2 separate regions of the Homo sapiens genome follow, and region 2 is linked to region 1. A link means that fine-mapping ties the variant in region 1 to the expression of a gene that starts in the linked region. Tissue or cell type: monocytes. Region 1 holds a variant in brackets; the other region holds the start of a gene. All regions are shown on one strand. Distances are between the middles of the regions.

The links. PIP is the estimated chance that this variant, and not a neighbour inherited with it, causes the effect.
Region 2: P4HA2 starts here. The variant in region 1 is the best candidate, but not a certain one, in a credible set for the expression of P4HA2 in monocytes (Kim-Hellmuth 2017, PIP 0.64).

The regions. Positions count from the first base shown.
Region 1 is chr5:132,323,114-132,338,522 of GRCh38, reverse strand. It overlaps SLC22A4 (solute carrier family 22 member 4), which reads right to left. Exons shown (of 10, transcript NM_003059.3): 5 at 11,120-11,246; 6 at 6,673-6,767; 7 at 3,591-3,805; 8 at 2,523-2,705. It overlaps MIR3936HG (MIR3936 host gene), which reads left to right. Exons shown (of 8, transcript NR_110997.1): 6 at 3,597-3,738; 7 at 6,213-6,334. Among named protein-coding and RNA genes, the nearest start is that of MIR3936, 35 kb to the left of the region's middle. The variant C/TGTGC (reference allele first, on the strand shown) is at 5,793.
Region 2 is chr5:132,218,822-132,234,230 of GRCh38, reverse strand. P4HA2 (prolyl 4-hydroxylase subunit alpha 2) reads left to right here and starts at 6,378. Exons shown (of 15, transcript NM_001017974.2): 1 at 6,378-6,441. RefSeq lists silencers at 6,032-6,261, 6,402-6,661.

The DNA of each region.
Region 1 (15,409 bases):
GGCTTGTTAGGATGAGGAAATTCCCACCTAATAAATTTTGGTCAGACCGGTTGTCTGCTCTCAAACCCTGTTTCCTGATAAGATGTTATCAATGACAATGCGTGCCCAAAACTTCATTAGCAATTTTAATTTTGCCCCGGTCCTGTGGTCCTGTGATCTCACCCTGCCTCCATTTGCCTTGTGATATTCTATTACCTTGTGAAGCACGTGATCTCTGTGACCTACACCCTATTCGTACACTCCCTCCCCTTTTGAAATCACTAATAAAAACTTGCTGGTTTTATGGCTCAGGGGGCATCATGGAACCTGCCAATATGTGATGTCTCCCCCGGACACCTAGCTTTAAAATTTCTCTCTTTTGTACTCTGTCCCTTTATTTCTCAGACCAGCTGGCACTTAGGGAAAATAGAAAAGAACCTATGTGAATTATCAGGGCTGAATTTTGCCCGATATACACCATTAAAGAATGGGCAAAGAAGGCCAGGCACAGTGGCTCATGTCTGTTATCCCAGCACTTTGGGAGGCCAAGGCAGGTGGATCACCTGAGGTCAGGGGTTTGAGACCAGCCTGACCAATATGATGAAACCCCATCTCTACTAAAAATACAAAAAAAAAAAAAATTAGCCGGACATGGTGGCATGCGCCTGTAGTCCCAGCAACTCAGGAGGTTGAGGCAGGAGAATTGATTGAACCCAGGCGGCGGAGGTTGCAGTGAGCTGAGATTGCGCCACTGTACTCCAGCCTGGGTGACAGAGTGAGACTCCATCTCCAAAAAAAAAAAAAGGGGCAAAGAACATGAGCAGTCAGTTCACTGAAAAATAAATAAAATGGCCAAAAAATACACAAAAACATGCTCAACCTCATTCATAATTAATAAATAGGAATGAAAGTAACAATGATATCCATTTTTCACATAACAGATAACCAATGATTAAAAAATTAGGTAGGCCAGGTGCTGTGGCTCAAACCTGTAATCCCAGCACTTTGGGAGGTTGAGGCGGGTGGATCACTTGAGCCCAGGAGTTCGAAACCAGCCTGGGCAAACTGGCAAAATCCCGTCTCTACCAGAAAAAAAAAAAAATTAGCTGGGCTTGACGGTGTGCATGCCTGTAGTTCCAGCTAGTTGGGAGTCTGAGGTGGGAGGATCTCTTGAGCCTGGGGGATTGAGGCTGCAGTGAGCTGGGAATCTAGGATCGCACCACTACACTCCAGAGTGAGACCCTGTCTCAGAAAAAAAAAAAAAAAAAAAAAAAGGTAATCTTTATTGTTGGTGAGATTATTGAAAACCACTCTTACCTATTAATAATTAGATTATAATTGGCACAATATGTAGAGTTCAATTTGGGAATATCTATGAAATTTTTTAATGGCTCTCTTTGCTCCAGGAATTTTACTTCTATGAATCTACCTGTAAATCCAAATATACGTAAGTAAATTCACAAAGGGTGTAGGAGCATAGGAGAATGTTCGTTGTAATGTTATTTGTAATAGCAAAAACCTGGAAATGACCTACATGTCCTCCATTCATTGGAGCCTGGTTAAATAAATTATGTGTTTCAGTATAAAAGTAAGATTTTCATTGTGAAAACTTCAAATGGCATGGAATGTACTGGAAAAAAGTACAAGTTCACCTCCCCTCTCCCAGGAGGATCCCTAGAAAACCAACATGAACTGTTTGGTGAGTAGCCCTACAGACATTTTGTTTTGCACAACATTATGTACACACACACATATATATATAATTTTTTAACGGCACTCTTTGCTCCAGGAATTTTACTTCTGTGAATCTATCTGTAGATTATACTTACATATACTTATTTTAAAATGTACTTATATACATTTTTAAAAGGAGGTACCTATTTAAAAAGAAGGTAAAGGAGCAATATGTAACTATTTGGAAGGATATTCTGATACAATGTTAAGTTTAAAAAGTTTTAACATATATAATGTTATTTGTGTGTTTATTCTTTTTATTTTTTATTATTTTTATTTATTTTTGAGACAGAGTTTTGCTCTTGTTGCCCAGGTTGGAGTGCAGTGGTGCAATCTTGACTCACTGCAGCCTCTGCCTCCTGGGTTCAAGCAATTCTCCTACCTCAGCCTCCAGAGTAGCCGGGATTACAGGCACCTGCCAGCACACCTGGCTAATTTTTTTATTTTTAGTAGAGACAGGGTTTCACCATGCTGGCCAGGCTGGTCTTGAACTCCTGGCCTCAGGTGATCCACCTACCTTGGCCTCCCAAAGTGCTGGGATTACATGCATGAGCCACCACGCCTGAGTTGCTTGTGTGTTTAAAAAATTATATACATACCTGTGTACATGATGTTGTGCAAAACAAAATGTCTGTAGCGCTACTCACCAGTTTGTGATTGGCTTTCTAGAGCTCCTCCTGGGAGAGGAGAGGTGAACTTGTACTTTTTTCCAGTACATTCTATGCTATTTGACATTTTCACAATGAAAATCTTACTTTTACATTGAAAACTAATTTAAAGGAAGAACAAATGCACAAGATGCAGCTCACCGAGGTAAACAAAGTAGGGGGCAATGATGCTGCCCACTCTGGAGGCCGTGGATGTGACCCCCACCGCCATGTTCCTGACCAGGGTTGGGTAGAGCTCAGCAGTGAAGACATACAGCATGGAGAAAGCAGAGGTGATCCCAAATTTTCCCAGCATGACCAGACCAATGGATAAGAAGTAATAATCTGGAAAAGAGACCCGGTATAAACAATGGTGCTTTTAGAAGTGATACTTTCTTATATCAGTTATTTTTATTGTCCTTTTTGCTTCAGTGGGAGTACTTTTATTAACATAAATATATTCCCAAAATAGCATTTTCTCTTCAAATGTCCTAATATTTGGGCATGGACAAAGATGGAGCTCATGTGAGGGGTGGCTTTGTACTTTGTTCTACTGTTATTCTAGGTCATTAATGCATTCAGTGACCTTTGTCCACTTGTCTTTTGTTTGTTAAAACAGTTTCATGGGTAAGCTATTAGCATGTTAATATAGTTAAGTTTTATCTTCAAAGAGGAGGACCAATCCTTTCTATCCTCTTTCTTATTATTAAGAAATATGTATTTCTATTACTATCAATAATTTAGTGACATTTTAATATTATGAGAACGTCAGACACAAGGGGAAAAGGGAAGCATATATCCTTTTGTGTGCTATTTAACTACTTAAAGATTCAGACCAGAAAACCACTGAATGTATCCTGGAACCGACATGTCCTACTCACTGTAATACTTGAATATACACCCAGGGAAAATGTTTGAGAGTAGCCAGAAATTAGGAATCATGACTATGAGTTAAAGGGAGATGTTAGGTGAGTCTTTCTGTGAAGGGGATGACTGGGAGAGTTACTCTTCCTCTTTGGTGCTTTCTGCTTCTCTGAGACTGTCTCTTCTGTTTGGGGTAGTTGTTTTGAACACAGGAAACAACATACGTAGTGAGCAATCACCTGTCTAATTGACTTATGAATGGCTTATGATGTAAAGGCTGAATAAACATGGAGCAGTGACTCAGAAGCAGCCTAGTCAATATGTGGGTCTTTTCTGGTAAGCTGTTCATCTTGGTTAACTTCTTACCCACAGGTACCAGTTGAATGAAGAGAAGCACACCTCCTCCCCAGAACAGTACTGCAGCTATGATATAACGCCTGGGCAGGGTTCGCAATAGCAGCCAGGCTGTAATGTAAGCTGGAATTTCAATCAAGGCAGAGAGGAAACAGTTCAGGTAGGCATCTCCATGTAAATTAGGAGCATCCAGAGACAGAGCAAAGTAACCCACTGAGGTCAGCATCCTGAAAGAAGAAGGTAAAAATGACAAAGGGATGGTGTGAATCGCTCTAAAATTTTATGATGGTCAAGAAATTCTCTATATCTTGCTGTCTTATAAGTAGCCACTACCCTCATTGGCTACTTAAATTTGAATAAATTAAAATTAAATAAGATTACAAATTCAGTTCCTTAGTTACACTAGCCACACTTCAAGTGCTCAATAGCCACGTGTAGCTAGTGGCTACTATATTGAACGACATAGATATGAAACATTTCCGTCACTGCAGAAAGTTCTATTGGACAGTGCTAGTCTAGATATACCAATATTCAACAATAACTTTTCTCAGCTAGTTGATTTCAAGTTTTCCTATTTCCTGAATAGTTTGTACCTCCTCAATCTCTTAGAGCTATTATATGAAGAAAAAATATTAGTCACATCAGTGAACATAAAATCCAGATTTCATTCTTTAACAAAAAAGAGATACAAGGGTCATACTGTGGGATTCACTTAGAATAAATTCTGATTCTCTTTAGGGAAAAGAGTGAATGTCCCCTAATCCTTCAAAGTATCACAGACTGCAGTCTGTATATTCTGTCATTATAGTTAACTTCCATGTAGAAGCTTCTCTGTGGGCCATGCGTGGTGGCTCATGCCTGAAATCCCAGCACTTTGGGAGACCGAGGCAGGCAAATCACCTGAGGTCAGGAGTTTGAGACCAGCCTGGCCAACATGGTGAAACCCCGTCTCTACTTAAAAGACAAAAATTAGCCAGGCATGGTGGTGGCATGTGCCTATAATCCCAGCTACTTGGGAGGCTGAGACAGGAGAATTGCTTGAACCCAGGAGGCGAAGGTTGCAGTGAGCTGAGATCGCACCATTGCACTCCAGGCTGGGTGACAGAGCGAAACTCTATCTCAAAAAAATAAAAACATAAATAAAAAAAAGAAGCTTCTCTGTGGAAAAATAACTATGTAACTGAGTACCCCCATTTTTCTAAGAGATAGTTTATTTTCTCTCTCTCTTCTTTTCTCTTTCCTCCTTTTCTGCACTTTCTACTTAGCTCTTTAGAAGTGCAATTATAGCCTTTTAACCTCCTCTTCACTGGACACTCCCTGCAGGGCAAATTCATCTAACTATGTGCTTAGAAGCTCCAGAGTGGAACTCTCACCGCCCAGATTTCCTCAAGCGATATCAGTCAATTTCCAACTCAAAGTATGCCTGCTAGAGTTTTTGGCCACCTATACAACCTGTTTCTGCCCATGAAGGCACCACCTCAACTGCCCAGTAGATAAGGCAGCAAGCTAGCCCTCTGATCCCTCACCTGCTCGCGTCCTCCCCTGCCTTTTAGAAGTGCCTGCTTTCCGCTTCAAAAAGAGGAGCGGTGGTACCCTTCAGGCAGGAAGCCGATACCTTTCTCCCTAAGCTAGCTTTGGAATAAAAAGTCACTTTCCTTACATCAGACTTTGCTCTTGTTAATTGGACGCTGCAAGCTGTGAGTGACTGAACCTGAGTTTTTGTTACAACTGCACTATGCAGACACCCCTGTGTAGAAATTTGCTTATTATTAACATGACTGAGAAGCAGAGGATATCTGAAAAATGACTTCAGGAACACTAGTGGATCTTTTTACACATACTAGACCCAAATTAGATAATACAAGGACTAATTCATAAACACAACAAATAAGTATGCTCAAGGGATCTTAGTGATTTTCCCATTTAGTAATAGGAGTAGTTTAGATAGAACTAGTGACTAATTTTTTATTAGCTTAGTAGCACCACTACCCAAGAACATTTGCATCAGGGATATAGGCTGAAATGTAAGAACTAAGAAGCCCATGTACCTAGGACACACTTGCTTAATTCAGACGCATAAGCTCTGTCATTGATCTCTTCTAATTGCCAAGTAGGATGGCCCTTAAAAATAAACTTAGATTAGCTGCAGCCTAAATCTACCAGTTCTGACGATCATCGTGTGTGTGTGTGTGTGTGTGTGTGTGTGTGTGTGTG[C/TGTGC]TGCCATCATAGAGTAGGAATTTTCTTTTTTCCTTTTTTCTTGGCAGATAAATTATTAAATCTAATCTATAAAGCCAATTCAGTATTTCTGCGCCTGAAAGCCACTTGTTAGTTTGCTATTGGCACGTGTAAAAAGCTGATCAAGGCTCCAATCCAGGCAATGGGGATCTAGGTTATTCTAGCCTCAGTGTTCAATTGCCAGGTCAGCTTCAGGAAGCAGGAGCTGAATTAGCATCTCTGCCTCAGGCAACACGGACATCATTAGTCTTAATCTCATAATTTTTGGTGGGGAGGGAACCATTACCCAGGGACATCAATGATCTCAATCCCATAACTTTAGGAGGGGGAAGGGAATGCTTTCCCTTTGGGTCCCAGTACTGCAGACTTAAATACTGTACCCTGTGACTTTTTTTTTTTTAGATGGAGTCTTGCTCTGCTGCCCAGGCTGGAGTACAGTAGTGCGATCAAGGCTCACTGGAACCTCCACCTCCTGGGTTCAAGTGATTCTCCTGCCTCAGCCTCCCAAGTAGCTGGGATTACAGGTATGTGCCACCATGCCCAGGTAATTTTTGTATTTTTAGTAGAGACGGGGTTTCACCATGTTGGCTAGATTCGTCTCGAACTCCTGACCTCAGGTGATCTGCCCACCTTGGCCTCCCAAAGTGCTGGAATTACAGGCGTAAGCCATTGCGCCCAGTGACATTTTTCAATATCTAGTCCCATGAACTGAATAGAGGCATTTCAAAATAATTTAGAATTTTATAATCTTAATTTTTCCTCAGGAAAACCCAGTCGTTGTCATAATGTTCCTCTGAGTTAAGAAAATCAGTTGCATACTTATGTGCTGGATATCTGCATTTCCAGGTCACTTATTACTTACCATAGCAGCAAAGACATAATGGTCATTATGGCAATATTCCGAGTCCTGAACAGGTCCAGAATGAAAGCTTTCTGCTGCTTCAGGGGATTTAGCTCCTGTAACCAAAATAATGCAAATAACCATGAGATTAAGAGGTAGTAAGGAAGTATCTTTGGCTATGATGCATGGGGAAAACTTATGCATGCAACTCTCACTTCACCTTGACTATGCTTAGAAGTCTGGTGATTGGAGGCAATAGGGCATCTACATATATGACACTTACTCTGACACTTTAAAATGTTTGTAGTCCATTTTACACAGAAGCCTTTTAAATATATAACACCCCCTTCCCTGTCTCGTTAGACAAAGCCTGTTGGCTAACATAGCCTTTCTCTGACTGACAGTCAGAGAATGGATGTCATTTACCACACTGATCTGTGATCCTCAGGACTGCCTATTGAAGGGTAGGGCCATGTAGTCCCTTCCTTGAGGCCACGTCTGCTTTTTACACTTCTCTGTTTATTTGTTTGTTTTTTTTAGATGGAGTCTAGCTCTGTGGCCCAGGCTGGAGTGCAGTGGTGTGATCTCAGCTCACTGCAACCTCCACCTCCCAGGTTCAAGCGATTCTCCTGCCTCTCAGCCTCCTGAGTAGCTGGGATTACAGGCGAGCACCACCGCATCTGGCTAATTTTTGCATTTTTTGTAGAGACTGGGTTTCACCATGTTGGCCAGGTTGGTCTCAAACTCCTGGCCTCAAGCAGTCTGCCCACTTTGGCCTCCCAAAGTGCTGGGATTACCCAGCCTTGCTTTTTACACTTCTCTTGTTGTAGTCATTTAGCATCAGAACAGACTTCAGTTTACTGGCGGGCCTTGGGCAAGTAACGATCCTCTCTGAACTTCAGCTTACTGCTATATAAAATGGGTATATTAATTGGGAGTTGAGAGATTAAATGAGATCATATATATATAGCTTAGCACAGTGCTTGAACCATGGTAAATGTCCAGTAAATTTAAACTATTATTATTATTACTGTATCATTGAGGAAAAGAGGCTAGCCATCAGCGGTCAGTGACAAATCCTTACTGCTATCAATGGGTTTATACTCTTTTACTTTTATTTATATTTATTTTCTTGTTTGTTTTTTGAGAGGGAGTTTCACTCTTGTTGCCCAGGCTGGAGTACAGTGGCGCGATCTCAGCTCACTGCAACCTCCGCCTCCCAGGTTCAAGCAATTCCCCTGCCTCAGCCTCCTGAGTAGCTGGGATTACAGGCACCTGCCACCACACCTGGCTAATTTTTGTATTTTTAGTAGAGATGGGGTTTCGCCATATTGGCCAGGCTGGTCTCAAACTCCTGACTTCAGGTGATCCATCCACCTCAGCTTCCCAAAGTGCTGGGATTACAGGTGTGAGCCACTGCGCCCGGCCTATTCTTTTGCTTTTAATTTGCTGATATTAACTTGCTATGAGTTATGAATCAAGGTAACCAAGCTGATTAGAATTGAAACTAACATAAAAGTTATTAGGCTCTGAGGTGGGGAATCTCTCAGGGATGAAGTACCAGGACTTTGTGACTTTGTGGCCCTACAGTGCATGCGCAGTAAGAGACTGATGGAGGAGTTTTTATTATGAAGAAGTGGGAGTGCCAGGCCTGCCTTCACAGCAGGTCCTCTCCAAATGTGAGTGTCCTTTTTTCTAGGAATGATCAGACACTTACACAGCTCACAGCCACATTGCCTTTTCTCTCTTGCACTATTTGGATTGTAGAGCCCCAGAACATGCCCCCAGCAGAATAACCCTGGTATTATAACAAAGCAAAGCCACTGCATAAACTAGTGGGAACCAGACATCTTCTTGGAGGGTTCCAGGGTGGTGCACACAGACAGGACCTGTGGACCAGTCCTGTGCTAATACTTGGTGGTTCCACGGGGCCCTTCTTAAATGCAGGTTGCCAGGTTCCTCCCTGGGCTTGCCTACTTCGACTCTTTTAAACAGAGGCCTGAGAATCTGTATTCTTAAAGCACTTGGGTGATTGTGATGAGCAGCCAGGATTGGAAACCTCAGAACAAGAATATGCTTGTATCCAGTGGTTGTCCCTGGCCTGGGTGGAGCCACCAAAATGTCTTTGGATCAGGTACCAGAAGCAGGTTGAAGGTGCTTCTTCTGAAGCCAAGGATGCTTGAGATTGCTTTCTAAGACAATACTCTACTCTATATCTTTTCCTATCCAAGTTAATGCTACTGCCTGTAACATGAAGTGAAAAATCACAGTTGTTAAGAGCATGTACTTTGGTGCCTGGGAGAACTAGGTCACAAATCCCAGTTTAACATCTGTGTGATCCTGGGCAAGTTACTTAACTTCGCTGTGCCTTAGTTTCTTTTTTTGAAAAAAAAAAAAAGCATGAGCAATGAGCAGAACACAGTGCCTGGCATTTGGTAGGCTCTTCAATATCATTCTAAATAGGGTGCATTTGCTGGCACAGGGCTCTGCAGATCCTCCTAAAGAGGATCCTACGGGAGGTGAGCAGGGGAGATGACCAGGCCTCAGGAAAGCGCAAGCCCCCTTTCCCTTAATGGGTTTGTCCAGTTCAGGCTAGATGTGCATCATGGCAGGAAGAAAGAAGGCACTGTCAGGCTGAGAATGATGGCTCACATCTGTAATCCTAGCATTATGGGAGGCTGAGGTAGGAGGATTGCTTGAGCCCAGGAGTTTGAGACCAGCCTGGGCAACATAGTGAAACCCTGTCTCTACAAAAAAAAATACAAAATGTTAGCTGGGTTTGGTGGCAAGTGCCTGTAGTCCCAGCTTGGGAGGTTGAGGTGGGAGGATTGCTTGAGCCCAGAAGGTCGAGGTCGAGGCTACATTGAGCTGTAATTGTACCACTGCACTCTAGCCTGAGCAAAACAGTGAGACTCAAAATTTTTTTAAAGTGTGTGTGTGTATATATATATATATATATATATATATACACATACACACATATATATACACATTTATATATGCGTGTGTGTGTGTGTGTGTGTGTGTGTGTGTATATATATATATATAAAGGCACTGCCAGAACCATGTGTTTTAACACTGAACTATATTCTTATTTGTCCATAACTATATATCTCATATCTATTTTATGATTGCTGTCATCCACATAGGTAGATCCCTACAACTAGACTCTAAGTTTCACAGATAGGAATCAGGCCACCTAGCTGATAAATACCGATAAACACCCCAGCACAGCCCTGAAGGGCAGAAGTGTTAGACACTCCCAATGTTGTTGTTGTTGTTGTTGTTGTTGTTTTATCCATTTAAATTGACTGAGACTTGAAATGGACTTCTTGATTTGAAGGGCAAAGGATTAAGGGATGTTTTGTCCTGGCAGCCCTCTGAGAGCTTGAGTTCATGGCCAGTCTAAGCCTCTAGCCATAGCCAGAGTATCTGCTTCTGGAAAAGGTCCTGAAGGCCAGGGACTGGGGAAGCCGTGGGGGTGAGCAGTGGCATGCCCACCGTCCTCTACAGAGTTCTGCTTTCTGTACTACATGCTTTGGTGCAGGGCATGTATAATGTTACTGAAGCCACCACAGTCTTTTTTAGGTGTCCTGAGCAGACTCCTACCTATCTCCTAGACAGGAATGCCCTGCCCCATCCTCTCCACTCATTTAAGTGAGTCCTGCTGTCCTCCCTGGCTTGGACCTGCCTCCAGCCATGGGCCACCCTGCTATCTTTCTCTGTATTGCTGGCACACAGTGTCTCTACTTGGATACTTACCATTTCCTCCCTTATGCCATTCTTTATCTTTTTATCTAATCCTCTTGCCAATCTTAGTTACATTCTATGTTCCTTTAGAATTTGGGCTGTGTCTTTTCTTATTTCCTCTAGGAGCCAGCACAGGGCATGGCACACTGCATATCCTCACGAACTGTCAGGAGGTGTGGCTGCTTCCACAGAATATCAGCTTTTCCTTGTGGCCACCAGCTTTCAAGGGTGAATCCTCAAGCCTGTGCTTTCAGGCCTTAAGGTTCTAGACATGACACAGAGTGAGACTAAAGACATGCATAGCTTCCTCAGCAGTCTGTGGTAAGATTCAGGGTACAGTGGAGAACCCAGGGTGGACTAGCCCTGAAACATATTTTTCCACTTAATCTGGACATTTAAAAATCATCAGTACATAGCTGTGTCAGTGGTTTGGAGCAATGCCAATAGAAAGTTGATGATAAACTTGCAAAATAAAGCAAACTAATATTTAATGAACGCTTGCTATTTGCTAAGCAGTTTACATATATTATTGCATTTAATTCTTATAAACAGCCCTTTAAGGTGGATTTTATCTTAGAATTTAATCATGATTGTGTTCCTAAGGCCTAGTGCAATGCCTGGTACATAGTGGGCACTTAACAAATATTGAATTAAGTTAAATTCCATAAAATCAAGAATGCATAGCTGATCTCAAGAGGAAACATCTGCAAATGCTTACCTCCACAGAATCAAATATCACTGCTGGTACAGCTATGTTGTTCATTTTTGCAGCTTTTTGGATGATATCTTCAGCCTCTCTAAATCTTCTCTGGGATATCAGCCATCGGGGAGATTCAGGAATGAACCTATAATTTATTTTTAATATTTAATAATTTTTCACAACAGCAGGGCTGGATACTATTAAATCTGAGTTTCCCCCAAATAGTTTTAATTTTGTAAAATTCTAGTTTGTCTTTTTAAAGGGAGTCCACATAAGATTTCTATTGGAGCATAGGAATAAATAAAACCACCTTCAAGTTTCAAACTTCTGATCAAATTATAAGACCGATCATCAGTTGTGCTTGAGACCAGGACCAGACCATAAGGGGTGACATTAACTATGGGCATGTTTGAGCCAGGGCTCTGGAGAAGTTCATCCAAAACTTATAGGTAGTGTGGCTCATAAAAGAAACATAGCTACTAGACTATAAGTTCCCCTAGAGAAGAGACTGTCTTTGCAGTGGGTCCATCCTAAGGAGAATTGCTGGTGTCCCAGCTGGTGATGTTCACAGTTTATTGGGAAAAGGATGGCCAGGGCACCTGTGTTCTTGATCGTTTCCTTTAGTCAAAAGAGAAAGTGAGGGCACTGACACCCGCCTGTGTGGGGCCCCCATGGCTTTCAACAGATTCCCAGATCAGCGAGTGCCCAAACCAGCTTTTGGGAGATGAGCCCCAATGTTGTCTTTTTGTTAATGTCTAAAAAAGCTTATTGTTTTAAATTACATAGTCTATTCCCATTTATAGCTGATGCTCAAACACAGTTGCAAATAATAGGGCTTCTATTCTTTCTAAATTTTTATTTCTCAAAATCTTTTAGCCATTCTCCTGTCAGCTCTCATTTTCCTTACCTATTGTCAGTACAGATGGTCCCTAACTTATGATGGTTCGACTTATGATTTTTCTACTATAGGAGAAAAATGATATGCATTGAGTAGAAACCTTACTTTGAGTGCTCATACATACAGCCATTCTGTTGTTCACTTTCAGTACAGTATTTAATAAATTACATGAAATATTCAACACTTAATTATAAAATAGGTTTTGTGTTAGAAAATTTTGCCCAATTGTAGGCTAATGTAAGTGTTCTGAGCATGTTTAAGGTAGGTCAGGCTGAGCTATGATATTTGGTAGGGATGCAGGGCAGGCAAGCTCCAGAGTGGGGTTTGGCCCATGAGGGTTCTTGGCTTTGCCCAGGAAAGAATTCAAGGGCAAACTGGAGGTGGAAGAAAACAGCTTTATTGAAGAGGCAATGTTACAGCTCCGTGACTGCTCCTGCAGAGCAGGGCTGCCCCACAGGCAGAGAGTAGCAGCTCAGGACAGTTTTGCACTCATATTTATAACTACTTTTAATTACATGTAGATGAAAGGTCAGTTTATGCAGAAATTTCTAGGGAAAGGGTAGTAATTTTTGGGTCATTGGGTCATTGCCATGGAAAGGGGCAATAAAGCCTGAGTGTTGTCATGGCAACAGTAAACTGACATGGCACACGGGTGGGCGTGTCTTATGGAAAGCGTCTTCTGCCCTGGCTGTGTTTTAGCTGGTCCTCAATTTGGTCCAGTGTCCAAGCCCTGCCTCTGGAGTCGTGTCTGGCCTCCTACCTCAGTAGGTTAGGTGTATTGACCTAGAATATTCTCAATTTACAATGGGCTTATTGGGATGTAACCCCATTATAAGTCAAAGAGCATCTGTACTTACTTAGCCTAGACAACAAATTATAAGTAGCAGACACAGAGTCCTGTGTAGTTAATTGGCCCCAAACCCACACTAGGAATTAGCTCAGAGCAAAACAAATGACCAACCAGCAGGTCCCCTCTCCAGCTTAATAGCACATGAGTTGAAAAATGAGCCTAGTTTGCATTTTTCAGAATATGCCTTTAGTGGGTCCCTATAGGAACTACAATAATGTTAGGTCACTGACTCTCAGTAATTAGAACTGTGCTGTCCGATAGAAACTTCTGAAATGTTCTGTATCTGTACTAAGACAGCACCCACTAACCACATGTAGCTATTGAGCTAGTGTGATTGAAGAAATGAAAATTCAATTTTATTTACTTTTAATTAATTTTAACTTAAATAGCTGCATGTGGCTGGTGGCTACTATATTAGTGCAGAATTAGAGATCTTACTACACAGCCACGATATACCTCATGGATGGGGCCAGTATCTTTCTCCAACCAGATTATGCTTAGAAATATCCTACCTTTTTTTCTACAGACCACTGGCCTCAGATTCTTAATGTTTAATCAGCTAGAAATTGCATAGCTTTCCTCACATTGCATCTATGGCCTGCTTCCCTACCCCATCCCCACCGCCTATACACATACTCCATTCACACCTGTGGCCACTTACTGCCAAGCCTTTTAAAGGAAACTTGGGACATAAAAAGTCCCCCAAACCACCAGCAGTGCCTCTATGTAGGTTTACCTCCCATTTCTAGCCCACTGTACTCAGGGCCACTGGTATCTCTAGTTTTGAATTGCTTTGATTTTTTTTTGGTGCACATAATCTCAAATCTAGCTGATCATTTCAAAAGTCAATGGAGTGCCAAATGAGGTAGCACACTATAATCTCTCTGTAGATTGAATTCAGACTAAACAGCAGTGAGGTGTTGCTGGAGAGCTTGTCTCATACTGAGCAGGCGGCAGGGTCCATGTCAGCTCTAAGCATCCCTCCATACCCCAACCACTAGACTGATGAGCATCCCTTTGGGAAGACCCACCTGCAAGGATGGGATGTTCAGAAGAAAGCTATTTTCTTTTATAGGAAAATGGTAAGACCACTGGTAAATGTTCAGGGGGAGCACTCAGCTTGTCAGTGCTGGTCCCAGGCTGGCCTCTGTCTGGGGCAAGTCCTGTCCCTGGTACAGTATGCCCACAGCCAGGAGCATTCATGGACCAGCTCCTGGGGAATAGAAGAAAAAGCTCTCCTTAGGGCACAGTGAGCAGGCTCCCTGTGGGATGGACCTTCTCTGCTGGAAACTCTGGAGGCTGACTCTGGAGGGCTAATGGATCAGAGCTGTTCGTTCCTCGCTGTGACATATGGTCCCGAGGCAAAGATCCCATCCCTACTAATCTCTGTACAGCCCATCAGAGGCTTTATATTGTTATTCTCTCTCTCTCTTTCTCTCTGATAGAATCATACCTTAATCAGATTGATTATAACTTTTTTTTTGAGACAGCATCTCATTCTATCTGGGCTGGAGTGCAGTGGCATGATCATATAGCGCACTGTAATCTTGAACTCCCAGGCTCAAGGGACCCTCCCACCTCTGCCTCCTAAGTAGCTGGGACTACAGGCGCTCACCACTGCACCCAGCTAATTTTTTATTTTTAGTACAGACAGGGTTTTGCCATGTTGCCCAGGCTGGTTTTGAACTGCTGGGCTAAAGTGATCCTCCCACCTTGGCCTCCCAAAGTGCTGGGATTACAGGTGTGAATCACCATACCTGGCTAATTATAACATTTTGAAAGTACTGGTCTCTTAGGTCAAAATGACAACTAGAGCCAGAGAACATAGTTTATTAAAACCATTCAGCTGAAGAGGCAGAAAAGAACCTTTGAATAATCTTGTCATGTGTCTTGAGAGAACCTTAGTCACTAACATCTTTTCCAATAAATTCAGCTAGCAAGGGAGTTGTGGAGAGAAGGACAGATGATGATGATGATAATTACTCTCATTCAGAAAATTGCTCTGCTCTTGTAAGTCTGGGATGCTTTCCTTGGAGGCACAGCTATGTAGATAATGGCCAGCCCTTATTCACTGCTCCTCAGGCCGGGTTTCCCGGTCCTCAGACAGGGTTCCAGAGGAATGTTGCAAATCAGAATAATACATAACCTTTAACAAACTGTCAACTCCCCCTGCACACTTCATGCCAATAATTTACACTAGTAAATCACAGCACTCTTACAGGTCATGAGAATACAGGGGCTTAGAGTGAGCCCACCTGACCTGCGCTATCTCGTCAGACAGGTGGCCTGCCTGTCAACCTCTATGACTGCCTAACAGCTGCAGTAAGATAAAGGCCTAGACAGCTTCCCAGTCAGGAGGTATCCAAAGGACAGGGCAACCATGAGGTCTAGTCTAAATTGTGAGTTCCAAAAAATGGTCAAAGAAGCTTGTGTTATGTGTAAGCAGGTAGAAGTTATGCAGTTCGGTGAAACCAGTCAGTGCTGGAAGATTTGACTTTGATATAATGAAATCAAACAAAGAAGAATTAATGAGAGAGAAAGAGAATGAGAGAGAGACAGA
Region 2 (15,409 bases), 100 kb after region 1:
TGGTTCCAGGGCCTGCAAGAGTCATCAGCATTCAGGGAGACTTCAGTGCCAAGCAGTGGAGCTTGCCCCACTCCCCTTCCCCAAAACAGGGATCACAGGTGAGTAGGAGTGGAGGAGGCTGGGGCAGGGCAGGCTGAGTAGGCCCCTGTTTAGAGTTAAGGGCTATGCCACATCCACCCTCCTATTCATCCAATTTCCTGTCCGCCCAGCACAGATGTTTTTACTATCCCTTCTGGGGAAACACCAGGTTCTTCCTTCGGGGTGGGGATGGCAGGCAGACAAGTCCAGACTGCTTCAAGGAGCCATTGGCCAGGGATATTGCCTAGGGACAGCATGGAGGTAGAGCCTCATTTGGCAATGCCCTGGCCATGCTGGGGTGAAAGGTCATAGGCCATGCCTGATCTTGAGCCTAGGAAGGGTCTCTAAGACTGGGTCTAGGTAGGCAGTACCTCCTACTAGTAGCCTTTCCCAGCTGGAAAGGCTTGGGCTTTTCCCTCCCTAGACAAAGTTGCTGGGCGGGCCTCTGCTTATCTACTAGTTTTTATACTAGACAGAGCCCCTTTGATATGTGTGGTCCCTGAATCCCCCGCCTTGACCTCAACTGGTGATCAGCAAATGTTTGTTGAGTGAACACATAAATGAACACCATAGAGCTGTTCCAGAAGGGAGGTATGGCCTTGTTCATACAATGGATTTGGGGAGAAGGGATGTGAATCTCTATAACATGCTGTGATGTGTGGCTGTTAAAGATGGTTGTGGATTCATTAAGTGACACACACTGGGTGTACTCAATGAGGTCTGCTAGAGGCCACAATAGTGGGAATGTCCACTCATTCATTCATGTATTTTTGTTCACCAATTCCTCTCTAGGCTCTGGGCGCCAGACCCTATGCTAGAGCTGGAGACACAGTGATGAACAGGTTAGAGGCAGTCCCCAGGAGGGCCAAATGGTAAATGAAGTAGACATTGAATGAGGTCAGGTAGCATGTGTGAAACTCATCCATGAGGAGCTTTGGGGCCTATGGCAGGATCTGGCTCAGGCTAGACCCAGAAAGCCTTTTGAAAGAAACCACCTTTTGGGAAGAGAATGTTCTAGGCAGGAGGAATAACACATTCAAAGGCCAGGGAACTGAAAAGTGCCTGGAGTGGCTGCAGCATCAAGTTTGAGGCTGTGCATAAGAAGAGAGACCATCAGGGCTGGATAAAAGGGATTGGCAGCATTGGCAAGATTTGTGTCTACCCTTGGGTCCATGGAATACCTTTGAGAGGTTCTATACGGAAATAACATGATGGGAATCACATGGTTACAATGTCACTCTGCCCTGTGTAATGGAGTAAGGATAGAGGGAGCGGAGTAGAAAAGTGGGCTAAGATGGATTGTCCAAGTGAGAGATGGTGGTGTCCTGAATTTGGTCTGCGACAGCAGGGTTGGGAAGAAGTAAGTGAACTGAGAGAGATCCACCAGGTAAGATCTCCAGGGTGGGCATGCAGTGGGAAAGAAAAGGGAAGTGACTGGGAGATGGTGATATTTGCTGAGATGTAGGAAATGCTGGGGCAGAAGCAGTTTGGGTGGTGTGGGCTGTGGTATGGGGGAGATGTTTCATCCTGGCTGAACCTGCAGCTGGAGATGCCCCAAAAGCAGTGGCAGGGGGGTCCCCATACGGGACTACCCCAAACCATCCTGAAATGGTTGGGATTCCAAAGAAAGTAGCACTAAATGCCAGGGTGATCAGTCCAAAGCATTTATTAGGGAAATTTCTCGGTCTCTGAGGGGGCTGCAGTACATCCTGTAGGCAGACAGCGAGACAGGGATGTTCTATCTAGGTATGCCTGCTGCAAGGGGGGTCTGGGTATGGAATTTATATGAGATTTTAAGGAATTTGGCTCAGGGTCGGGGCTAGTTTCTTTCAGTGTTTCGGGCGACCATCTAAACACCTTTATCAGTGCCTGGGAATGTTTAAGGCCCCAGCTTGGGCTCAAGCCTACAGGAAAAAACCTTCGGCTGTCTGGGTCATAGAGTGGTCAAGGCATTTGGTATTTGTCAGGAGAGAGAAAAAAGTGAGGGAACCTGGGGGACCCTACATGAGACAATGAGTTCACTTATCAAGTGGTCATAAAGAAAAGGCTGTGACGATGTGGGTCTGGAGTGGACCCAGGCTGGAGATTCAAAACTGAGTGATAGATTTACATGGGTCCAGAAGCCTTTGAGGGCATGGAGGAATGTCAAATGTAGTGGATTAAATGGTGCCCCCCAACCCCACCAAATTGCATTCATGTCCTACTACCTGGATCCTGTGAATGTGACCTTATTTGGAAAAATGGACCTTACAGATATTATTAAGTTACAGGTTATTAAGGGAGCTGTTGCAGTGGTTCCAGGGCCTGCAAGAGTCATCAGCATTCAGGGAGGCTTCAGTGCCAAACCTCCCTGGATTACCTGGGTAGACCTCCCAATCTGCCCTGGATTACCTGGGTAGACGCTACAGCCAATGACAGTTATTTTTATAAGAAACAGAAGGGCAGAAGATGCAGACACCGAGGAGAAGTGCAGGTGAAGATGGGGCAGAGATTCGTGTGATACAGCCACAAGCCAAGGAACTCCTAAGCCACCAGGAGCTGGAAGAGGCAAGGAGGGGTTCGCCCCTAGAGCCTTCAGAGGGAGCACACCCCGGTAACATTTTGATTTTGGACTTCTGGCCTCCAGAACTGTGAGAGAATAAAATTCTGTTGACTTAAGGCACCTAGTTCGTGGTAATTTGTTGTGGCAACCCCAGGAAATGAATAGATCAGGAGCCCAGATGGAGTCTGAGGGCCTTATGTTAAGGGCTGAGTGGTGAAAGTGAGGCTACAAAGGCAGAGGTCAGAAATGGTATCTTCTGGGTGGAGGCAGGTAGAGGAAAAGGAATATAAAAACAAATGAATGGCCACTTCCTGCAAGGCAGGAAGACCAAGGAGACATGATCCTCAGAAGTCCTGCCCCTTCTCAAGGCTGCAGATTTTTTAGGAGGATATCTGACCAATGCTGTGGTCCTGAGCTGCCAGGACTCCAAGACCCTGCGGAGGTCTTACTCATGCCTTTGGAGACTAAATCTTACAGTGTGGAGCAAGGTATTGAGGAGATATCCGTCCATTCAAGGAGTTAGCAAATATTGAGCCCAGTTCGGTGGTGGGAAAATGGCAATGGACAAATGCATGCATGGTTTATGTACTCCCAGACCTCCCAGGCCAGTCGGGGAAGACGTTACCCAAGCGATCATTCAATTCTATCAACGGTGGCAAGTGTTACGAAGCACACGGGGACATGAGAAGCTGTTATGGGAGGTTTTGTGTGTGTGGTTTTTTTTTTTTTTTTTTTGAGACAGTCTTGCTCTTGTCACCCAGGCTGGAGTGCAATGGCACGATCTTGGCTTACGGCAACCTCTGCCTCCTGGGTTCAAGTGATTCTCCCACCTCAGCCTCCCTAGTAGCTGGGATTACAGACACCGCCATCATGCGTGGCTCACTGCAAGCTCTGCCTCCCGGGTTCATGCGATTCTCCTGCCTCAGCCTCCTGAATAGCTGGGACTACAGGCATGCGCCATCACACCCGGCTAATTTTTTGTATTTTTAGTAGAGACGGGGTTTCATCATGTTAGCCAGGATGGTCTTGATCTCCTGAACTCGTGATCCACCCGCCTCGGCCTCCCAAAATGCTGGGATTACAGGCGTGAGCCACCGTGCCTGGCCATGCCCAGCTAATTTTTGTATTGTTGTAGAGACGGGGTTTCACCATGTCGGCCATGCTGGTCTCGAACTCCTGACCTCAGGTGATCCGTCCGCCTCAGCCTTCCAAAGTGCTGGGATTACAGGCATGAGCCACCGTGCCTGGTCTGTTATGGGAGGTTTTGACCTACTCAGGGAAGTAAGGAAAATCTCTCTGCCTCTGAGGGAATCTGAAGGATTCTGAAGGTTTTAATCAGGGAGGGAAAAATTTTTTCTAGACAGAAGGAACAGCATGTATAAAGGTCTGGGGTGGGGAGGGGGAATGGCCAGTTAGAGAGACTGGAGGAAGTTCGATGTGGTTACAGAAGTGAGCAGAGGCCAAACCATGTGGAACCTTATAAACCACTTTTTGATGTTTCTCAAGATCAGGGCAATTTCCCAGCTGCAAGTAATGGGCTCAGATCTGCATTTTGAGATCATCATGGTTGTAGTGAAGGAGAGATGAGAGGGAACAAAAATGGAGGAGCAGCCAGTCAGGAAAGTGTTGCCATCACTCATGTGAAAAAGATGGAGAGAAGTGGGTGGATTAGAGGGAGATTTAGGGGTAAAATTGAACAGACTTGGGATATAGGTAAATAGGGTCTGGGGATGAGGGAGAGGGAGCTGCCAAGTATGACTCCCAGGCTTCTGGTTAGGTAACTGATGGGAAGTATCTCCTTCAGTACAGCAGTGAAGACAGGATGTGTGGAGGGGGAAGATGTAGGGGGAGAACAATAACTCTGTGTTGGACATGTTGCCATTGAGGTGCCTGTGGACACTCAAGTGGGGATGTACACTGAACAGTGAGTTACATGAATCTGGGGTTCAGCAGTAAGGATAAGGGTAAAGAGAGAAATTTGTGTCACCTGCGTGTAAAGAGAAGCGTGAAGTGGAAAGCCTAGACCTGAGTTTTGAGGAACCCCCAACCTTTACTAATAGGGAGAGGATGCTGAAGAAGCTTGAGCAGAGGTGGCCAGAAAGGATGAGGGGAAACCAAGGGAAATCAGTGTTCCAGAGGGGCTGTGGTCATCGCTGGGTGTCAGACACTGCTCAGGGCCCTGGCAGATGAGGTCTGAAGAACAGCCGTTGAAATTGGAGATTGGAGGCTACAGTTTATTGAGACCTGGTTTGGTGCTGTTAGGGAGCTAGAAGGCTGACTGCAGGGCCTGAAGAGTGGGAGAGACAGCTCCTTTAGGGCCTGAAGAGTGGGAGAGATGTGAGGATGGGGAGACAGCTCTTTCAAGAAATTCCGCTGCGGTTGAGAACAGAGACACTCAGTGGGGTCGAATGAGGGTTTTGTTCCCATAGTAGAGGCTTGAACACATTTACAGGCCAATGGGAAAGATCCAGTTGAGAGCGGGTAGTTGAGCCTTCAGGAGAGAAAAGGGATGTTCCATGGGGCAAACTCCTGAGAAGGGGGAGGAGATGGAAGGAAGCTTCTGTGGATGTAGCAGATGCAGGAGGGTTTGTGTAGTTTTAGCCGGGCTCGAGCCGGTGGCTGACGCAGGCAGGAACAATGGCTCACCCATGTTTTATGTGTATTTCCGTGTGCGTGCTCCTGCTTTCCCCAGGTCTGGGCCGCCTGCCTGGCCCGTGTGCCGTAGGGAATATCCACACTGGGCCTGGGCGGAGGCTGGGCATCTCCCGCTCTGGGCTTGCTCCCTGATGAGATTCTCAGACCGTGCTTCCCCTCATTCATGAGAGGAAGGTTCACAGAGCAGGCGTGGGAACCTGCCTGGCCGCCAGGGCCTCCTCCCGCTCAGGCTGAGGTTTGCTGCATCTCTGTCCTTATTCCCTTCCAGACTGGATTGGCTGAACCAGGTGTCCACTCTTTTTGGCCCATGGCATAAAGAAGGGTTTGGGCAACCCAGTGTGCCCCAGGTTGTTACCGCCCCCCCGCCTCCGCCCCCACCCAGCCTTTGATGGGCCCCCTTCTCATCAATCCATCACCCCTGCACATGCCACCAGGACTGCCTGGACCAGAGCCCGGGACTCTCTGAAACCCACTGAGAGCTCGGCCCTGGGAATGGGCCTCCCAATCTCGGTCTCCAGGGGGTGGGCCCCAGGTCCCTAGTCTTCCTCAGGGTCTTCTCCACTGTTCTGCCTCCTCTCCTGATACCCAGTTCCTAGCCGGGGTGACCCCAGCCTCCCGTAACAGCCTCCTTGTGGTGGTGCTGGGAAGAAGGGGCCCGTGTACCCGGCAGGGCCCCCCAGGCAATGGGCATGAGCGCAGGCAGGGAAATCCGTCAGCCTCCAGGGACGCTCTCCCTACAGCCCCGGCGAGGGGATCGGGTCGTGGCGACCTCTCCAGACGCCCAGGGGCTGGGCAGGAGGGCGGGCCAAGGCCCGCAGGTGGGGGCGCCAAAGCCAGGCGGGCGCGGAGTACGTGCGGTGGGCTGCGGGCGGCATGAAGGGCGCGGGCGGCCAGCTCCGGCTCCGGCTCCGGCTCCGGCTCCCGCGAGGCCGGGTAGCCTGGGCGTTCCCAGGGGTCGCAGAGGACGGCGAACCCCGGCGGAGCCACCGGAGCTGGGGACCAGGACGCAGGCAGGCGTGTGGAGCGTGAGGTGGGGACGTGGCGGCGGCTCAAGTGGGCGGAGCCCCGGCAGCGGCCCGAGGCGGAGTCGCCAAGGGAGGAGGCGCCGAGCTGACCGGGCGACGCCGCGGGAGGTTCTGGAAACGCCGGGAGCTGCGAGTGTCCAGGTGAGCGCCCCGCCCGCTCAGCCGCCAGATCAACCTTAGCGCTGGGGCGCGGGCTGGGGTCGCCAGGCGGTGCGTTCTGCCCGCGCGGGGCTGAGAGTTAGGGGCCGGGGCCGGATCCGGGGCCGGGGGTCGCGCCGCTAGCCGCCAGCAGCGCAGTCCGGGCCGCCACCCTGCACCCTCCGCCCTGTTTCTGCACCCGTCTGGGTTCTTGTGCCGCCGCCCGCAAGCCTTCCCGAGCTCAGGGTGGTGAGGTCAGCGGCGCCCTTCGTGCAGTTCCCTCGGCTGTCGGGCGGGGCTGGGAACTTGGCCGCTCTTCCCTGTCAGGCTCCCGGGAAGTGGCGGCCTGACCCCGGGCTGCCGGCTGTTGGGAGCGGGGGCGCGGCGTCCGCCTGGCCCTGAGGGGCCTCTTCATATTGGCTAAGCCCGTTCTGCACCCTCCCAAGGGCTGGGAGTCCTAGGTCTTGTCCGGGCAGGGTCCAGCTTGGAGCCCATTAGATGGGCCATTGGATCAGAAAGTCTTTTCTCCCCCAGACATCCTTGTGGAACCAGCGTTGTTTTTCCTTGGCAGCTGCGGAGACCCGTGATAATTCGTTAACTAATTCAACAAACGGGACCCTTCTGTGTGCCAGAAACCGCAAGCAGTTGCTAACCCAGTGGGACAGGCGGATTGGAAGAGCGGGAAGGTCCTGGCCCAGAGCAGTGTGGTGAGCGCTGTGCTGGAAGGGAATGCGGGCAGTGGGTACTTGGTAGAGCACTGACTGCCTCCGGCCAGAGGACTTCCCGGAGGAGGTGACCCATGAGCTGGAGTGGTCAGAGGAAGGCTGGCAAAAGGGCATCGTGGACAGAGGAACAGCCTATGTGAGTGGGAGCAGAGACCTTGGCCAATGCCATTCCTTATGGCCTTGTAGTGGAAGCAAGGTGATGGGGAAGGAACACTGTAGGGGATAGCTGTCCACGGACGCTGTCTACAAGACCCTGGAGTGAGATAACGTGCCTGGTACTGTGCCCTGCATGTGTAAGATGCCCAGTTGACCTTCGCAGCAGGAGCCTGGATCAGGGCACTTCCTGCCTCAGGTATTGCTGGACAGCCCAGGTGGGTCCCTGGCCTTTGTATTCTATTTGACTTTAAGATGGTGCAGGAGAATACAAAAAACTATCCGGGCATGGTGGCGCGCGCCTGTAGTCCCAGCTACTCGGGAGGCTAAGGCAGGAGAATCGCTTGAACCTGGGAGGCAGAGGTTGCAGTGAGCCAAGATCGTGCCACTGCACTCCAGCCTGGGAGACAGAGCGAGACTCCATCTTAAAAAAAAAATAAAAAAGAGAGATGGTGCAGGAGAGCATTGGGATCCCTCCCAAGACTGTGACTGTTGTCTTTTGCTGTAGAGTGACACCCGAGATTTGTGCTTCTTGATAATAGACTACCTGGGGCCTCACAGCCCCAGCCCTCTTGTAGGAAATCCTGTCCTAGGAGCAAGGGCTGGAGTCCGTTACGTTGTAGCTTGGGGCATTCTTAAATGTCCCAGACTTTGTGGAGATCCATTGTCCACCTAAGAATTTATAGGATGTTTTTGGGGTCTGCTGCTTGTTCTCAGCCTGTGTCTCATCTGACATTAGGTTCCATAATTTAGTCTCTGTTAAATGAACTAGGATTTCCTTTGGCTTGTACTTAAACTGCCCCTGAGGTGTCCAAGGTGCAGCCTCTCACTGTGGTTCTGGGCCTCAGCGCCCAGTCTCTCTGGTTGCTTCTCCCCACTCACAGAATGTTTGGTCTTTGAATTCTTTTCTTTTAGGGCCTCCTTGTTCTTACACAGCCGAGTGTCCACTGTGTGGCCCAGCCAATGAAGCCACGTAGCAAGGATGGAGTGAGTTGGCTGGGGGCCTCATCCCAAAGATGCTGTCATACTGGATCACCCTAGTTCTCTGAGAGCTCAGCAGGCAGACTTGGTGACAGCTTAGCTGAGGCATTGTCTGTGGCATGTGATAGGCCCTTGTATCCTGTCGAAAGCTCTGCATTGGGGTACTCTAGACAGTGCTTACTTAGTCACCGGTTTAGACTGGCCCCAGCTGATCTCAGTTCATCCCTTGAGTGCCTTCTGCCTGTTTGGCTTCTGACTGGAGCGTGCCTGGGGCTAGAATGAGGGACGAGAGAGAGGAGGTGGCCGAGGCACTATTCTTGCCTGTGGGTAGCTCGTACTCTGAGATTGCTGCTTCATATTGGCAGCTGGCCATGTGCCAGGGGAGGAGCCCGGCTGTGAGTGCTCATCAAAGGAAGAGACTACGTGGGTGCAGCTCTGAGGAATGAGTCGGTTGAGGGAATCTAGGGTCTCCTCATTTCCTAAGAAGGCCTCCCTTTTTCACTCTGCCCTCCCACATCCTTGGGAGGGTCTGAGACTGGAAGCAAGGCCTTGGCTGATGTGTGGCCACGCTGGCTGATAGTGTGCAGAGGGCTAGGAGGTGTGTCCCTGGCTCCTGGGGTCTGTCAAGAGTTTACTATTATGCAGATGGAAGTTGGCAGGAAAAGCTGTGATGCAAGTACATGCAAGCCCAGCAGAGTGCTGGAGTGAGAGTTAAACTTCGGGAAAGTTGCTCACATCTAGCAATTTGGACATTTGAAGTTCCTTAGGGTAAGACATCAGCCTGTCCTAGAGCAAAGAGGGCTGGAAGGTCCTGTGGTCTGTGGGCTTTGTGTTACGGACATGGAATGAGAGATAGAAAGACAGTTTTTTTTTTTTTTTTTTTTCCTCAGAGCAGAGGAGAATGAAAAGTCTGGATGATTTACTGGAGCCCTAGAAGAGAGTTCTTGTTCAGCTGGTGTCATTGCAGGGCAGAGGATTAAGTGTTTGGGTAGAGTGCTCTCCAGCTCAGATGGAATCTATCTGAGCCTGGTAACAGGCCAGCATCTGCTCTGGACCTTTCAGGAAGTGCTTGCTTAGAGTGTGGCCTGTTTTGTACCTGGCACTCTGAGGGCCAGGGTGTAGTGGAGATCCTCAGGCCTGGGTACTTGTAGGAGCCTGGAATGAGCAGGTCAGAGGCATATAAGTACATGAGTTCCTAGAGTATTGGTCCAATCCCCCGCCTTTTGCTAGAGAACATTGCTTGATGAGCTTTAGAGCCAGTGATTGACCAGTTCCAGGGTTATCCCCTGATGATCAATGTACTACATTATACCTGATTCCAGTCTCTCCTGAATTAAATGTTTCATTTCTTGTGGTGCTCCTGGAACATGGAGATCGCCCAATTTCTGCCTTGTTTGCATCTTCACTGTTCCCTAGTCTGGACCTTCTTTCTCACCCAGGAATCAGCTGACTTGGGCTGGGCAGCTGGCTGCCTCAGGTCCACTGATGTTTCTCTGGTGCCCTTGGTACTAATGATTGACATAAATTATGCCTAGTGCAGGGCTACCTGCCAACATCTGTCATCACATTCAGTCCTCCAACAGCCCTATGAGATATAGGTCCTAGTATTGTCTCTATTATATACATGGGGAAACTGAGGAATCCTATAACTTGTCCAAGGTCACAAAGCCGGGAAGTGGTATAGAATTGGGGTTTAACTCTTAGTATGTCTGACCCTAGGGCAGGTGTGCCTGTCCATTTGACTGTACTGCCTTGCCCTGAGCTGGACTGGCTGGTTATTTGTGAGTGCTGTCATGTCTAAGGTAGGAGTGACTGCCCATCTGAACTTAAGGGACCATGTTGCTGTTTTCTGGGTCCATGTTGCGTTCCTCCCTCTGGTGAGATCCAGCCAGGCGTGTCATGGACCTGCTTTATGAACCTTTGGTGTAACCCATGATAAAGTCCTTAACCTGGGCAGGCATGTTCTTCCTGGGCAAAGTGTGGCTTCCCTGTTTGGGAGTCCATTGCACTTTAAGGTAACAGATTATTGAGTAGGACTGGATAGCTGCAATATCTAGCAGAGTGTGTTTTGGGTTTGACTCTTGGTTCTGTCATTGATTTGCTGTCAGATGTCAGATATGTAGGAAACCTTCTCTCAGCCTCAGCTGTTTGTCATTTGTATCTATCTTATATCTGAAATGGAGGTAGTTATCTAGCTTAGAAGGTTTGGGTGAGAATTAGATAGTAGAAATGAAAGATTTTTGGAAACAAATAGTGCTTATCTCAGACTATGTTCCCAGGAAACAGCCTGAGACAGAGCTTAAGTACTTAATGCTTTATTGGAAGGTGTAATTGCAGGGCAGCCAGGGTGAGGGAAAACAAAAGTGAGGTGCAGGCCTGTGCGATGGCTCATGCCTATAATCCCAGCACTTTGGGAGGTCGAGATGGATGGATTGCCTGAGGTCAGGAGTTTAAGACCAGCTGGCCAATATGGTGAAACCCCATCTCTACTAAAAATACAAAAATTAGCTGGGCATGGTGGCACACACCTGTAGTCCAAGCTACTCAGGAGGCTGAGGCAGGAGAATCCCTTGAACCTGGGAAGTGGAGGTTGCATTGAGCCAATATTGTGCCACTGCACTCCAGCCTGGGCGACAGAGCGAGACTGTCTCAAAAAAACAAAAGAAAAAAGTGAGGTATAAAGGAGGATGGGAGGTGGTGTTTTAGCAAGCTGGCTACTCTGCACAGAGATGTACTTGGTTACCCTATGAGGGCCCTTTGGTAGCCACTGGGGAGGCCAGTCTGGTACTTCAACAGAGTCTGGAGATAGTGAGAGGAGCCAGAGATTCTGGCGTGGGCCTGGATAGTCTCCTCCACTGGGCTGAGGCAAAGTAAATACCCTGGGACCTGGGAGATGGGTGAGACCAAGAGGTTGCAAGGTGGGACGTAAGATGCATCCAATATAGTGGTATATGGATTTTATCCTCAAGTGTAGTTCCCTTTTGTGGGTTAGTCTCATCCAGACTGCCAAGTCTCTGCCAAGACTATGACTGAAAACCCAACTTGGCTTTTGCATGTCAGTTTTAACAGCCTTCTCTGCTACTTCATTGTCTAGTTACTGAAGCAAGACTTTGTGGTGGTGATGGTACCCAGGTGGGGAAGTGGAAGTCAACCACTATTCATGTACCAGACTGAGAAAGTATGTGGATAGATACAGATAAACATCTTGGCTTTATTAGGTTCTTCGTGAAGGAGAATATTTTTTCACATAAAGTAGTTGTTGAAGATACGAAACCTGGCATGGTGAGATGAGGCTAGAGAGGGCAGTAGGGCCTGGTCACACACTCAAAAGGACCCTTTGGGCTAAAGAGTTTGAACTTTATCTTGACGGCAGTAGAGAGCCAAAGGAGGGCTTTGATAAACCATGCTGGCTACTTTGTAGAGCAGAGGTGGGAGGAAGGCCAGATGACATGTGGAGAGGCCAGTGTAGTGGGGGCCAGGATGCCTGTAGGGGAAGTTAGGGGTGGCTCAGATCAGGGTGATGACTGAGGCTAAGGAGAGTAGGGTACCCCCCATACTTGCCTAGGGTGCCGTGGCAGCAGCTTATAGGCCTGAATGGACATCCATGTGCTTTGGTGGCAGGGTCTCCTGGAGCCTCTGGATCCTCTTAGGCTGAACACACAGGTCCTTTCAGCCCTGTTATCCTAGAGTTGGAGGCAGCGGGGAGCCGTGTCCAGTTAGGTTTTCCCCCTTCACAGAAGGCAGGCAGGTTCTTGTTCAGTGCCAAGCAAGACCAGTTTGTTCTCAGCAAGCTCATGTTCTGTCTCTAGGCTGTTAAATACATTGTTAAAACTCAGGCTGTTGCATTTGGGTTGCAGCTGGGAGCTTGGCAGAGATTCTGCCTGATGAGGTAAGGAGAGAAGCTAAGGACGCTGCTGGTTTGCAGCTGGAAACATCTTTTCATGGCCATTTGGCCAGATTGTAAATGTCTTTTCCAAAGTTCAGGTTTGGTGGGACCTCTGGTTGTATGTCTTGGAATTGCCCTGTGTTTAGAAACAGTGCCAGTCGCCTGATGGGTGAATCACTGTTGCTGGGATGTTGGCAGGTTTTGCAGGACTTTCCTGTGGGGGTCCAAACACTAGGGCTGGCAGGGCCCGTTTGGAGTCTGTTTGAGAAGGGCCTGCTTTGTTTTCTTTACATTTTAAGCATATGATAAAATAATTTTAAAAATTGCTATAGAATTTCTTGTAGAAAGATTAGAGAAACAAGCATAAAAATAAAAAGAAATTATTTCACCAAGATATAGCCAGATGTATGACTCTTTTCTTGCATCTCTCTATATACACATATACATTAATTTTTCCTTACAAAAATGGAATTATAGAGTGCATATTATTGGGGCCCACTTTTCTCACTTAACAGTATGCTTAGATCTCTTCATGTTGATATATAGTATTCATTTTTAATATACTCCATAAAAACTCATTGTATAGAAGAAATGTAAAATCTTCTATTGTTGTAGTTTCCTAATTTGAACAAGTCTGTGGTGAAGTATTTTTTGTTGTGTTCCTGGTATGGGACAGACATTGTTCTAAACTCTGGGGATGCAGCACAGATAAAACTCAGTATTGGTTTTCTGCTCAAGATGTCACTTTGTTTTTCATAAAAGTGGGTTTGACATTGTTCACCTCCAGACTTATTCCAGTTGGATTCTGAGGGTTTCTGGGAGGGCTTTTAGCAGCACTGGACACTTTGTAGGGGCACTCAGCAGGTACACATACTTTCACCTACTCTGTCTTAAGCAAGCTGTGGGCATAGTTATGAGATGGGTTGGAGGTTGGCCTTTCCCACATTGTGGGGCACAGTCCCTCTCGGATGCTGCCTCCTCCCAATCTGACTCTAATTAGAGGACTTTTTGTACAGAGCCTTTTGAGTTAAGGGGCCCAGGCTTGGGAGAAATGGGGTAGGGCTCCAGAGTACCCCTGCCAGAGATGTCAGTGTTGATGTGGTAGTCTGGGAGCTGCTGCTTGGAGGTGCCCAGCTCTCCAGGCTAGCAGAGTTAGTTATCCCCTTCTCCCACCAGAGCAAGACTTTGCAGGCTCTTGGTAGGTAAGTCATCTGTAATTACCTGTGATTCTTTGAGGCTCTGCCCAAACCCCATCTGTGATTCTTTGAGGCTCTGCCCAAACCCTATCTGTGATTCTTTGAGGCTCTGCCTCCAGGCTGAGATTCAAGAATGGGCTCAGTCTAAGCCAGATCGCACATTCCAGAGAAATCACAGCTGGTATTCATGTAATGAAGAAACCTGGCTTTCCCTGAGTGTTGTGAGGTATGAACCGTAGATGATAGGAGCAGAATGATTTGAAAGGAATGGACAGACTTCCTCCCTGGAATTTATCTGGCCTCTAAAAAGGTATGCAACTGCAACTGGAGACACACCTGGGTAGAGATGCTGGGTTCCCCACTTCCAACCATGTCTGGTTTGGAACCTGCCTGGGCCCTGTTCTCCCACCACCCCAGCTCTGAGGAGCAGTCAGCTGGTCCCTTTCTGATCACAGATACATCCTCCCAGCTCTATGTTTTCACTGTCCCCTCCCTACATACATACAGAAGGTGCTGAGCCTGAGCCAGTCAAGCCTTTTGAGGAACAAGAAACAGACACCCAATCCCTTAGGTATAAGGGGCTTGTGTAAGCAAGAGAGAAGCCTTCTGAAATCCTGGGATAGAGAAGACAGTATAGTAAGGCCTTGGAGCAGACCTGTGGCTAGAACCAGGAGGGCCTGGACTCTGCCTCAGGGCAAGCCCAGGCTTACTCACTTTCTCTTGATGACTTGCTCTCTTCTGCTGCTCTAACTCCCTAATGGACCCCTTAGCACAATACGCCCTACCCTGCAGCAGGTTCCAGGTTGGAAGATAATTGTCCTGTGTGTCTTGGGACCCCCACACCTAGACTATGACAGGAAGACTGTCAGCTCTGCAGACATTTGGCATAGGCATGAACACATGGCGCCATTCACTTATGCTTTCCTTCTGATAGAGGATCCATTTGCAGATGGGAGTTGTGGTTGGCCTTCTCTGAGCCTAACCTGGAATCTCAATGGATTAGGATTTCTTCTGAAAGAGTAAGATGAGGAATGGTGGGTGTGCTGTGTGTCTAATCAAGTATGGCGGGCAAAAAACTGATGAACTGGCATTATCTTAGACTTAGAATTCTGTCAGATAAGGCTTATGTTTTTTTGGGAAAGCATTTGTATTTCCTTTGTTTTGCTTGCTTTGTCTTAGTGAATTTCCATTTGAGCACTCCAGTGGGGTGCTCAAAAGCAGGGCAGGAAGAAGACCGGCAGAGCTGGGGTACAGATGGGTGCTAATCCTCCAGCACAGTCTAGGCTGCATGGCTGAGCTGGGAGACGGTATCGGAGGCTTCTGTTGTGGACTGAGGTTTACTGCCAGTGGGGTTTGTCTCAGGTTGTGCCTATTTCTGGGCTGATGAGAAGACAGTAGCTGGCCCCTTTCCCATGTCAGCAGCCCAGCCTGAGGTTTTGGCCATGTGTGCCATATTCATTTTTGTATCCTGAGTGCCTAGATCAGTGCCTGGCATCTGCAGGTCTTCAGTAAATATTTGTGAATGAATGGTGACGGGCCAGTGAGAACAGTGTCTGCCAAGGAGCCTTACTACAGGAAGAACACTGTCTACCTAGGAGACTGTCTCCTCTGACTGCTCTTTCTCTGGCAGGTGCAGACTGACAAGGGTTAGTTTTATTCCTCTTCTGGCTGGCCATCTGTTGTACACCTTAGTTTGGGTGTTGGTACTCTGGAGGATATTGTGTCAAATTATCTTTCTGTTATTGTCTCTCATGTACTGTTGCCTCCTTGTGGGCAGGGACTGGTTCCCCAAAACCTGGCACTGTCCTGGCATATGTGTTGGAAGGTAAGATAGAAACAAACAGCAGTCTGTGAAATAAGAAGGAGTGGGCCAGAATCTTGGACTGACAGACCATTGGAACCCGAGCTGACTGTACCCCACTGCGATTCCGCCTTCTCATGGTACAGGTGGTTGCTGGGAGTTGAGAGGATGGGCTCTCTCCGCAGGGCACGTGACTTCCCAGAGCAGGGACCAGAATTGAGCACACATC